Regions from separate parts of the Homo sapiens genome. Here all the other regions are reported to be linked to region 4. Evidence: microRNA targets listed by miRTarBase, many of them from high-throughput screens and not tested one by one. Region 4 holds a microRNA gene; each other region holds the end of a gene's coding sequence.
The links. The annotated mature microRNA hsa-miR-4423-5p reads AGUUGCCUUUUUGUUCCCAUGC and lies in region 4 at 1,883-1,904, shown strand. An mRNA with a match to its seed (bases 2 to 7 or 8) in the 3' UTR can be bound and repressed. Matches are read on the target gene's strand: a 7mer-m8 pairs with bases 2 to 8, a 7mer-A1 pairs with bases 2 to 7 and ends in A, and an 8mer does both.

Region 1 (3,096 bases), not on the chromosome of region 4:
GAGAATTCCAGAGGAAGACCACAGAATGACAGAAGGGAGATCAGAAACAGAAGAAAACATGCCAGAGCTAACCCAAGTCTGCAGAAAAGCCCCCACCGTGAGGAATCCCAGCTGGGATGATCTGGTGTGCTCCCTGGGGGCAGTGGCCACAGGCTCCTCTGACAATACGACAAAGGGACACACACTGCAGGGCAGGGAAAACACAGAACTTTATTTCAACAGTCATTAGGTTCCACCACACAACAGGGACACCATGGGATTGTTTTTTCATTTAATAAATACAAATGAATAAAAATACTTTATTTTGTCAAGAGACTGCCTCTCCTCCCTCTCCCGATCTCACAGAAGCCTCCAGGCAATTGTGTGCCCCTCCAGGGCCTGCACCCACAGACCCCGTCTACTTGCACAAATGACTCTTCTTTACAGAGAGGGCTCCATCTCATTTGCCTGCAAATACAACATAGGTATAATACCGCTCCTTTCCCCCATCTCCTTCCAAATACGAGTTCTTGCCCTGCGTTCCATTTTTTTTTTTTTTTTTTTTGAGACAGAGTCTCACTCTGTTGCCCAGGCTGGAGTGCAGTGGCGTGATCTCAGCTCACTGCAAGCTCCGCCTCCTGGGTTCACGCCATTCTCCTGCCTCAGTCTTCAGAGTAGCTGGGACTACAGGCGCCCGCCACCACGCCCGGCTAATTTTTTGTATTTTTAGTGGAGACAGGGTTTCACTGTTAGCCAGGATGGTCGCGATCTCCTGACCTCATGATCCGCCCGCCTCAGTCTCCCAAAGTGCTGGGATTGCAGGCGTGAGCCACAGCACCCAGCCTCCAAATTTTAAATGAGCCCCTTGTGAGAAGGAAAAGAATCTGCTGTCCACAGAAGCCAGGCGTGGAGCTACTTCAACCAGAAACTGTCACCCATGACACTCTGTGTGGGTTCAGTCACACAGACCACGATCCATTATGGAAGGGAGGGAGAAAAGGATCACATCAAATCTACTGTATGCCTCATAGACCATCCCTTATTTCAAAAATAGAAATTCCTATTTAAATGCCGCCCGTGTGCGACAGGCCTGATATTTGCTTCTGCATGTGGCAGATCTGTTATTGCTTACACTGTGGCCTCCTGGCCTGTGCTGCTCAGCTGGCCCTGTTAGAGAACATGGGAACCACATCAAAATCCTAAGTCACAAAACAAGGGCTCTGTCCCCAGCCTGGGCCCAGGGGCCCACATGCCCACCTCCACAGCCCAGTCAAGTGTGGGGATAAGGCACTCCTCTGTGCTCTGAGCTAAGATATGGTAGAGTCCCTTCTGAATTTTGAGTTGCAAAGAATGATTTTGTGCTAATAAATTCCCAGTGCATCCAAAATGTACAAAAACCCTAGAATTTCCAGTTTTTAGATTGAAAAAAAAAAATTTTTTCTGTAGATCCAGAAGAAACTTTCATTGAAACTTTAAAGACCTCACCTGCACCTGCTCTAGTAATGCACTAGTTACTAATATACAAACGTAAATCTTTGATGAGTATGGTCGGGAAAAAACTGTCTGTCCTTGTGATCAGCAATAAATTTCTTTTTTCTTTTTGAGACTGAGTCTCGCTCTGTTGCCCAGGCTGGAGTGCAGTGGCGGGACTTCAGCTCACTGCTACCTCTGCCTCCCGGGTTCAAGCGATTCTCCTGCCTCAGCCTCCTGAGTAGCTGAGACTACAGGCGTGCACCACCACGCCCAGCTAATTTTTTGTAATTTTAGCAGACATGGGGTTTCACTGTATTAGCCAGGATGGTCTCAATTTCCTGACCTTGTGATCTACCTGCCTTGGCCTCCCAAAGAGCTGGGATTACAGGCACGAACCACCGCACCTGGCCAATCAGCAATAAATTTCTTTTCTATTTACCCCATTTCTTATTAATTCACACTTCAAAAAAGCATTTCCTGGAAGTATTTCTAAGTGTGATGGTTTGTAATATATAACAAATGAAAAGATGTAATTAGATTATAAGAAAAGCATCTGCCTGTAAAATATGAAGGAAGAAAGGAAGTAATGGACTCCTCATGGGGCCCACAGGGAACCAGGAAGGACCCAGAAAGGGTGCCGGGCCCTTCCCCTGTGCTGCAGCTACAGGGCCCCATTTCTTCAGAAGGAGCGTTCTGGGTATTCCATCGTCCCCTGGAAGTCTGGCAGGTACAACCCCCTCAACACTCCAGGGAGGGAGGGAATCCACAGGAAGCCATGAACTGCTGGTTTCAGCGGGGAGAGGTAGTGCTGACAGCTCTGATAATCTACCTGAAGCCCTTTGTGAGGAATACTGTAAAACTGCAGTAAGCTGTCAATATTCGACATTAAGTCATCATTTCAGAAGAGAAGCCTGTTTGAAGTAGGAAAGGTTTGAAAAAAAAAAAAGATGCCATGGTTCTTGCAAGTCTGCCTTGTTTGGTACCAGCACAGAGCATCACTGTCACTAAGTGTGCCGGGGGAGAATGCTGAGCTGCTTGGCGGTGTGTGCGCGCCTGTGCGAGGCCAGGTCTCACAGTCCCAGAGACTTCTGGACGATCTGCTTGGCAATCTTATAGAACTGCTCCCGGTCATCGCGCCACATTTTGGACGCATCCACGTTAGCTCCACTTTCGTCATTGGGCTCTGAAAGAAAAGGGAACACCCTCCATGTAAAAGGGAGTCTTATACGTAAGCAGCCTGGCAAGGTCTCCCATTTATTTAAAACACTGGCGGGGGCTTTCAAGAGCTGTGTCCCAGAAACAAAGAACCTGAGAACTGCATGGGGTCGGCCCCACCTCTAGAGTGCTGGCCACGCAGGTCTCAACGAAAGCCACTCTCATGACTCCTGCGTTCTGAGTGTCTGAAGACACCAGGACAAGTTGTCATCTGTCTTGCTGTGGAACATGCGACAACCACCTAAGCACAGGCCCACACGGCCTCCCACAGCAGCCTCCTGGGCCACTGCACTTCTGGCACCCGGACAAGCTACACGGGGACCACCTGCTGCTTATTTCACCTTTCTCAAGACACTCTGCAGTGTGGCTTCTCTCTCACAGAGCGCCCTCTCAGCAAAACTGCCCCTCACAGCTCCTACCAAGACAATC
Region 2 (3,096 bases), not on the chromosome of region 4:
AGCTCACCTTCAAGAAGCTCATGGGCTTCTCTCCTTGCATCTTCTGGGGTCGCGGTCTCTTCTCAGCCACCTCCTGGGGCCTGCTGCCCTTTGCTGTGCCCATCACCACTGTGGGTGAGTGCCCACCTCCGGGGGGACGGCCACCAGCAGCTGCGTGGGCATCAGGGATCCCTCGCCCACCTGTCTCCCTCTCCCTGCAGTGGGCCGCCCCATCCCCGTCCCCCAGCGCCTCCACCCCACCGAGGAGGAAGTCAATCACTATCACGCCCTCTACATGACGGCCCTGGAGCAGCTCTTCGAGGAGCACAAGGAAAGCTGTGGGGTCCCCGCTTCCACCTGCCTCACCTTCATCTAGGCCTGGCCGCGGCCTTTCGCTGAGCCCCTGAGCCCAAGGCACTGAGACCTCCACCCACTGTGGACTCCATGCCTCCAATAAAAGGTAGTTCTGGGCCCAGCGCAGTGCCTCATGCCTGTAATCCCAGCACTTTGGGAGGCCAAGGTGGGAGGATCGTTTGAGCCCAGGAGTTGAAGACCAGCCTGGGCAACACAGTGAGACTTCATTTCTACAAAAATTAAAAAATAATGTTGTTAATTAGCCGGGCATGGTGGCATGTGCCTGTAATCCCAGCTATTTGGGAGGCTGAGGCAGGAGACTTGCTTAAACCCAGGAGGCGGAGGTTGCAGTGAGCTGAGATCACACCACAGTACTCCAGCCTGGGCAACACAGCGAGACTCAATCTCAAAAAAAAAAAAAAAAAAAAAAAAAAGACTGTTAAAGCTGTAGTAGGCTGGGCGTGGTGGCTCATGCCCATAATCCCAACACTTTGGGAAGCCGAGGCAGGTGGATCAACTGAGGTCAGGAGTTCAAGACCAGCCTGGCCAAAATGGCAAAACCCCCTCTCTACTAAAACTACAAAAATTAGCCGGGCATGGTGGCTCATGCCTATAATCCCAGCTACTCCGGAGGCTGAGGCAGGAGAATCGCTTGAACCCAGGAGGCAGAGGTTGCAGTGAGCCGAGATCACACCACTGCACTCCAGTCTGGGCAACAGAGCGAGATTCCATCTCAAAAAAAAAAAAATGTTGTTAAAGCTATAATCGTTCTGGAAGTGAACATGGCCAGGCATGACCTGCCCCCATCCTGATGTGCTACAAAGCTGCTGCCTTAGATTGGGTATCAGGACCCTGAACTGTCCTCCCAGTGAGAGTTCAGTCTGTGGCATGACCTTGGACAAGCCTCTTCCTTTTGCCTGTTTACTTCTTTGTCTGTAAATAAAGGCATCTGCTTAGCAAAGAGCTGTTGGGCATTGGGATGGAGTTAGGAGGGAGGATGCGTGGAGAGGCAGGCTTTGAAGAGTGAGCAGGATTTAGATGGAGGTGAAGTTAGGGTAGATGGCGGAATTCCAAGAGCTAAAGGTAAGAGCAGTCAAGGGCACTTAACAGGACGGGGAAATGGTACCATCCCCAGTGAAGGAAAAATAGAGTTAAGAACACAGCTGAGGCTGGGCGCGGTGGCTCACGCCTGTAATCCCAGCACTTTGGGAGGCTGAGGCGGGCGGATCACGAGGTCAGGAGATCGAGACCATCCTGGCTAACAAGGTGAAACCCCGTCTCTACTAAAAATACAAAAACTTAACCAGGCATGGTGGCGGGCGCCTGTAGTCCCAGCTACTGAGAGGTTGAGGCAGGAGAATGGCGTGAACCCGTGAGGCGGAGCTTGCAGTGAACCGAGATTGTGCCACTGCACTCCAACATGGGAGACAGAGCCAGACTCCGTCTCAAAAAAAAAAAAAAAAAAAAAAGCTTATGTCCTATGGCCGGCTGCTGTGGCTCACACCTATAATCCCAGCACTTTGGGAGGCTGAGGCAGGTGGATCACGAGGTCAAGAGATCAAGACCATCATGGCCAACATGGTGAAACCCCGTCTCTACTAAAAATACAAAAATTAGCTGGGCGTGGTGGTGCTCTCCTGTAGACCCAGCTACTCAGGAGGCTGAGGCAGGAGAATTGCTTGAACACGGGAGGCGGAGGTTGTGTTGAGCCAAGATCGCACCATTGCACTCCAGCCTGGGCAACAAGAGTGAAACTCCGGCTAAAAAGAAAAAAAAATGAAAAAAATGAAAAAAAAAATTCTAGAAATTAGCCAGGTGTGGTGGCTTATGATTGTCATCCCAGCTACTTGGGAGGTAGAGGTGGGAGACTCTCTTAAGCCTAGGAGGTCAAGGGTGCAGTGAGCCGAGATCGTGCCACGGCACTCCAGCCTGGGTAACGAAGCGAGACCCGTCTCAAACAGACAAACAAAAAGAGCCCTGGGGTGGTCACAGCATCCTCTGACTTTGGTCAATCCTATTTGCTGGCTGGCTTTGTGTATCCAGGACTTCATCAAGAATAACTCATTGAAATGTAATTGGAATGCCCTATATTTGCTTCTACCGTCCTATAAAATTTATTTGTGGGAAGAATTTTCCCTTTATTGCATGAAAATATGGGCAGTCCCATGACTTCCCTGGGTCATTCTCAGATAATAAGTTCTACATTCATTTTAAGTTGGAGCATAGAAATGTTTCGTTCAGGCCAGGCATGGTGGCTCATGCCTGTAAGCCCAGCACTTTAGGAGGCCGAGGCAGGAGGATCACCTAAGACCAGGAGTTCAAGACCAGCCTGGCCAACATAGTGAACCCCGTCTCTACCAAAAATACAAAAATTAGCTGGGCGTAGTGGCAGGTGTCTGTAATCCCAACTACTCCAGAGATTGAGGCAGGAGAATCGCTTGAACCCGGAGGCGGAGGTTGCAGTGAGCCGAGATTGCACCGCTGCACTCCAGCCTGGGCGACAGAGTAAGACTGTGTCAAAAAATAAAAACAAATAAAAATAAAAATAAATCAGCTCTGGGTTTGAGCAACCTCGGCCTGGATACCCTTGGAGTTCAGGCAGGCCTCGACGTGGCCACTTGTCCTTCCCCCTTTCCTGCCGTGGGAGCATCCAACCAGTCACAATCCGGCCAATAGATTTCTCCAGTGGGCACATTTTCCAGACACTGGGGATGGGCGGGGTATGGTAGTATGCATCTGTCATCCCAGAGTTTGAGAAGCCAA
Region 3 (3,096 bases), not on the chromosome of region 4:
TTCTTGATTCTCAGAAACTGAGTGAGCTAATAAGATGTGTGTTGTTTTAGTTTTGGGGGTAATTTGTTACACAGCATACATAACTACTACAGTGTGTGCTTATGGATGAAGTGAAGTTTCATCACTGTTTCTAGACCTTACACTGTTCAACTGGTGAAGATCCATCATCTTGCCCGAAGAGCTAGTGCCAGATTGCAATAAGATGATTTGATAAAATGGTTTCTCTCTTTTCCCTGCCCAGTTACTACCTCATGTCACATGGATGTCTGGGTTCTCCTTACCACTTAGCTTATTTGTCTAGAATATTTGGGATGCAGTTTGAGTGTAGTCTCAAGTGAGATAGAGTGCCACTAGAAGAAGGCTGACAGCCTGGCTATGCAGAAGCCCCAAAGAGTGAAGTTTGCAATAATCTGTCCGGGCTTTGGTTCTCTATCCTGAAGAATCAGAAACTATGTTTCATCAGAATATTTAGAAACTCATAGGCTAAACTGACAAACTTGGGGGCAGAACCACACACACAAAATTCACATGAGACTGACATATAAACCAGAGAATTTCTCTAAATTTACTATGTGCAGAATGAAATGTTGGTGCCCTCATGCAGAATTCTCCCTTTTCCTGAACAACAATAGCTTAAAAGGCCATATCAACAATCAGAAGATGGTTCAGTTAGGCTTGTAATTAGTGCCAAAAGAAGTGGCAAGTCTCAAGGTATGTTCTCCCTAAGCCACATACCTTGGGTCTTGATAAACTAGTCCTAACTGAAGTAGAGAACACTTTTGGTCACTGAATTACTCACATCTCTTGGATGCAGGACTTCCTTTTCACGGATAACACTGTATACACACTGTCATATTTTGTTTCTTCAAACCCCATTTTGGTGAGTTGATAATTTCGGTTTTCTTTTCTCAAATGAGTTAATATCATGTAATAACCTACAGTGTACCTGGGAAGCATTGAGACTCTCCTCACTATGTGTAGACTCTCTGGTGGTTTCTTCTTATCAAGTCCTTAGAAGGTATCTCACTGCTGCCCCACATAGTACCTGTGTAGTTTGGAGAGGCCATTTACTTAGCATATCAGAGCCTGTCCAAAGAGAATACATTAGAACCAGTAAAGAATTTCAAAGACTGTCTTGTAATTTCTCATTTCTTTTATCTAGAAAATTTCCATGATCAACAACATTCTGAACTGATCACCAGGGGGTTGAAAAATGAATAAATAGCAGTTAACAGAAATAGGGTATTTATGTTCTCCTTTTCAAAAGCTCAATGTTTCATCTGCTACAGTATAGTTTTCCAAGTTTAGTCATGAGTATTCTTACCAAAATCATTCCAATTTCGAATGATTACGCTAATTTGCACTGTCAGTTTCAGAAATTCAAAAATATATTTTTTTCTATTCACAATTAAAAATTAAATTTTGAGTCAGGAGTTTGAGACCAGCCTGGGCAACACAGCGAGATCCTGTCTCCACAAAAAGTTAAAAAAAATAAAAAAGCTAGGCATGGTGGCTTATGCCTATAGTCCCAACTACTCAAGAGGCTGAGGCGGGAGGATCACTTGAGTTTGAGGAGGTCAAGTGATCCATGTGAGCAGACTGTGCCACTGCACTCCAGCCTAGGTAATAGAGTGAGATCCTTGTCTCTAAAATAAATAAATAAAAATTAAATTTTGAGAGAATATCTTAGTATTTTAGTATCTTAGTATTAGTCAATATCTACTAATTCAAAAGTTGAGAAGTATGTTCCAGTAAATTTATGCACTTGAATTATTTTAAAAATTTGGAATTATAAAATTCTCAACATTTTGCTCACTACATAGACAACAGAATAATAAAGCTCAATGATTAGTGATTAGCACTATGCTAAAATATTAATAATTTCATAAATTTGTATAATTTCAAAATTTCTTTTAGTTTCATTGTCCTCAGAAACCCAAGAATGCCACTAATTTGTATTCTACTGAAAACATCTTTCCCTGATTACTTTTGTTTTACCAAAAAGAAAAAATTGTACTTTTCTTAAAAACAAAGTGAAGTCTAAATTAATTCAATAGCTACTGAAATTCACCTGAAATTTTAAACAGCTACAAATCCACAAGAGGAAAAAGTAAACACATTAGCTTTAATACAACTAGTACATAATAAAAATTAAGAGAAAAGATTAATTCAAGGAGAAAAACTGATTAAAGTATGCTTACTAAAGGTCCTGTTATCAGCATTTTTATTCAGTTTAGTCTATGCTAGAATATAAATACATGACAGTATGTCTTTTCTTGTCAAGGGTAGCCTTTTACATAACTAAAATTTGTGGCTAGCAGTTTATATAACAAAAGAAAAGCTAAATCTGTAAATTATCAGAAAAGAACCAAGGATATAGGAAAATAATACATTTATATAAATTACAAAGGACAGTTACAATGAAACTCCATTAGTTTCCTCTCAACCCAATTTTACAAAATAAAGTGAACATGTATTATTCTGTGAGTTGTTAAGAGTACATAAACACTGTGGGCCCATTCAAAAGACAGTGGTCAAAGACAAAATGTTATCTTCATGTTATACACTGTTCTTAGTTCTTTACTGGAGTTGAGCTTCCTTTCATAGTCTTCTTTAGGTGGTGGTAATTTGGCAAGATTTTCATCAAGAAATCCAGCTGTAGTGTCTGGGGCTAAAAAGATAAGGTAATTAAGGCCGATTGGCAGAAAGCAAAGTCAAGAGTACCACACAGCAACCAGGCGTGGTGGGTCATGCCTGTAATCTCAGCACTTTGGGAGGCCCAGACAGGAGGATGATTTGAGCTCAGGAGTTCCAGAACAGCCTGAGCAACATAGGGAGATCTTGTCACTAAAAAAATTTAAAAATTAGCTGTGTGTGGTGGCACACCCCTGTAGTCATAGCTACTCAGGAGGCTGAGGTGGAAGCAGGGCGGCAGGGGTGCAGGTGGATTGTTTGAGCCCAGGAGGTTGAGGCTGCAGTGAGCCATGATTACACCACTGCACTCCAGCCTGGGTGACAGAGCCAGACCCTGTCTCAAAGAAAAAAAAAAAAAAGTTCCAGGTAGCAATGGTTATTAATAAGTTGTGGAATTACAGG
Region 4 (3,092 bases):
AACGTTCCCAACTTCTTGTAACTTTATTTCCATTTGATATGGTGCCCTCTTTTAAGTAAAGCCACCACTTCTCAAATTTTCTCTGCAACTATGAATAGATTGTGGGTATGTGAATGAATTTGAAAGGGTTCCTCTGTTACATTGAGAACATAAAAAAAGTCACTAAGGAAAAACAACTAATGTTAGTCAGAAATGTCTCCTTCTAAGCAACGGCTGATAAAGGGGGAAATGGCAACAGTAACAACCTCAGAAGATTGCAATGGAGCTTAAATGAGTTAAAATATTTACAGCACTTAGCCAATAACTGGCACATAGAAAGTGTTCACATGTTCGTCCAGCAAGGCTGGCCTGTGTGAGTGCTCACCAGGTGCCAGGTTGAGGCTGTACAGTTCAACACAGATTTCAGGAAAATCATGCACCTGTCTCTTTGCAAACATAAAATCTGGAAACAGCTCACTCCTCAATGGACAATAATAATCACTGCTCTAGTTGCATATGAAATGGGAATTTTCCTAACCAGAATTTCAGCTGGAGACTCAGCCTGGGACAGTAGTCATTGCCGTGTGATCCACAAGCTATGCCATCCATATGGACTCAGAAGAGGGGGATTTCAAAAGAATTCTGCAACCTCTAGGCTATTAGTCACCCTCCAGTCTACATAAGGGAAACAAGAGTTATAGGGAAGAAGGCCGGAAAAAGGGACTTTTTTTTGAGAGACAGTGGTTGGGGACCATGTTTCCCCCCACTCCCTCCTTTCCCAGCACATCTGACTGCCTCCTGCCCACCTGCCCTCCTGCCTTCCTGCCCTCCATCCAGCCCTTTCCAGAAAACAGCAGCCAGGTCAACTATTCACAAACAGCCCCTTCTCATCCTTTGGTATTTTTAGATATCAGTGTTTTATAGGGATGTCTTGTTTTTCTTCCCCCCCCAGAAAACATATCAGAAGTCAAAAGAACAAATGCAGGCTGAATTAAAAATGGACTATGAGAGTTATCTGGAACTGGAAAAGACTGTTCTTATCAACCTTGGCCTAATCAAAGTCACAGAGAAGGGGTCATACATGGAGGTGATGTAAAAAAGCTTCCTGAAGGGGTGTTTTGGGGACTTCTTCCCTCTATTTATTTTTATGTCAGGTGAACTGGCATGCTGAACATATATATATATAGGCTCATTTATAGACTTTTATTTCCCTGCTATTAAAACTTTTGAATTTTAGCAATGAGATCTATTTCAGTTTTTGTACCATGTATGTACCAAATTTTGTACTGAATATGAAAGTGTTCTTTTTTAATGAATGTTTTCAATAACAAAATTTGTATTTTCCTATAATAATAGAGAACTTTGGATGTCCCTTCCATCCCAATCCTTGCTGTCCACACAGAGGCCCTCATTCCAGGCAGAAGGGGAAATCAAACTGCTCCTACTTATCAGCTTGCTTTTGGCCACCTTTCCAAAAAAAGTGCTTCCCCTTGGCCACTGTACAAACTGTAGGGCCATGTGCTAAACAAAATATTAGCAAATCAAATCCAGAAATATATATATATATATATTTTAAAGAGGTTAACACATGAAGACAAAGTTGGGTTTATCCAAGGAAGATAAGGTTAATTTAAGAGTAGAAAATAAATCAGTGATTAATCAAAAGAGAGAAATTATGATGCCAAGTCGATGCAGAAAAACATTTCATAAAAGTTGACATCAATTCATGATAATAATGATACATTCTTGGCATCTACAGAAAGAATTCCTGTAATGTGATGAAGGGCGTGTAAAACAATACTACACCAAACATGGTACTTCATGGTGACAAGCAGAAAGCTTTCCCCTGAGATGTGGAACAAGACACAGCTCACACCATCAGGTGCCTGACATCATGTACTGCAGTTGCCTTTTTGTTCCCATGCTGTTTAAGCCTAGCATAGGCACCAAAAAGCAACAACAGTATGTGAAACTGAGACACAAAAGAGCTTGGAGCCAGATTGTGAAGGCTCCTGTTTACCAAGCTAAGGAGCTGGATTAGAATTTATGGGGAATGAATGGAAGGTCTAAACAGGAAGTTGACCCAATCAGCTTTATTTTTAGGAAACAAGGAATGAACTAGAGCAGGGGAGAGTCTCATGGCAAGAAATCCTATTAGGAGGCAGGAGGAATTGTTCAGGGCAAAGGATTAGGATGCCCTGTACTAAAGCTTAATGTGAAGATAGAAATCAAAGGCTGGTTGGATGGGGAAGGGAAGACAAAGGATAATACCAAGGTTTATAAGTTAGATTGCTAGAGGAAAGAAAACTTTGTCGGATAGATTTTAGCTCTTAACCACCTGTGTGCCCTTGAACAGATGACCCAGCTCTGTGAAACAGATTCCCCTTCCATCAAGTCAGGTTGAGAGAACTTAACTTGCAGCATTTATGTAAGGGGCAAATGAGCCCCTGCAGATAAGGGGCCTGTGCCTGGCACATATTATTGTCATCATGATTGAAATATCCCAGGGCTCATCCTTACACTTGAACTTCTTTTATTCTTTCTTTTTTCTGCACTCACTTTCTAGGTGCATGCATCCACTCTCAAGGCTTTAGATACTACCTCTGTCCCTGACCTGGCCTTCTCTCTAAAATCAAGAGATGTGTATCTATTTGACCTTTTGTATCTCCACTTGGATGTTTAATAGGCATCTCAAACTTAAACATGTCCAAAATTGAGTGCTTGATGTTTCCCTTCAAAAACCATTCCTCCAGCAGTCCTCCCAGCCATGATGCTGCTTGGGGCAAAAGCCTTAAGGTCATCCTTCATCTCCTTTCTTTCACAATCCACATCCAATCTGTCAGCAAGTCCTGTTGACTACACGTTCAGTATGCATGTGAAACCTGATCGCTTCTCTTCTCCCTCACTGCTACCACCATGGTCCAAGCTGCATCATCATCAGCTTGGATTTTGCAGCAGCCTCCTGTTCTCCCTGTTTCTATGTTGTCATTTTCAGTCACTTTCAGCCACAGCCAGATGGTAGTTTTAAATGGATGCTGTCAGATGCTGTCATCCTTCTGCCCAGAATCCTTCCTCAACCTCATAGTATGATCACTCAGAGTATGTTCCCAATG

Region 1: miRTarBase lists UBE2G2 as a target of hsa-miR-4423-5p. Seed matches in the 3' UTR shown: 7mer-A1 at 1,599-1,605 and 7mer-A1 at 562-568.
Region 2: miRTarBase lists MOGAT3 as a target of hsa-miR-4423-5p. Seed matches in the 3' UTR shown: 7mer-A1 at 541-547, 7mer-A1 at 718-724 and 7mer-A1 at 1,045-1,051.
Region 3: the mRNA of DCTN6 is a reported target of hsa-miR-4423-5p. The part of its 3' UTR that is shown has no 7-base or 8-base seed match.

Annotation. Positions count from the first base shown.
Region 1 is chr21:44,768,855-44,771,950 of GRCh38, forward strand. It overlaps UBE2G2 (ubiquitin conjugating enzyme E2 G2), which reads right to left. Exons shown (of 6, transcript NM_003343.6): 6 at 1-2,635. The coding sequence ends at 2,523. Among named protein-coding and RNA genes, the nearest start is that of UBE2G2, 31 kb to the right of the region's middle. RefSeq lists an enhancer at 171-671.
Region 2 is chr7:101,193,205-101,196,300 of GRCh38, reverse strand. It overlaps MOGAT3 (monoacylglycerol O-acyltransferase 3), which reads left to right. Exons shown (of 7, transcript NM_178176.4): 6 at 1-114; 7 at 201-1,294. The coding sequence ends at 355. Among named protein-coding and RNA genes, the nearest start is that of MOGAT3, 6.3 kb to the left of the region's middle. RefSeq lists an enhancer at 130-630.
Region 3 is chr8:30,182,650-30,185,745 of GRCh38, reverse strand. DCTN6 (dynactin subunit 6) reads right to left here. Exons shown (of 7, transcript NM_006571.4): 7 at 2,107-2,671. The coding sequence ends at 2,573. Among named protein-coding and RNA genes, the nearest start is that of DCTN6-DT, 28 kb to the right of the region's middle.
Region 4 is chr1:85,131,924-85,135,015 of GRCh38, forward strand. It overlaps MIR4423 (microRNA 4423), which reads left to right and starts at 1,871; the gene lies at 1,871-1,950. DNAI3 (dynein axonemal intermediate chain 3) reads left to right here. Exons shown (of 23, transcript NM_145172.5): 23 at 932-1,215. The coding sequence ends at 1,075.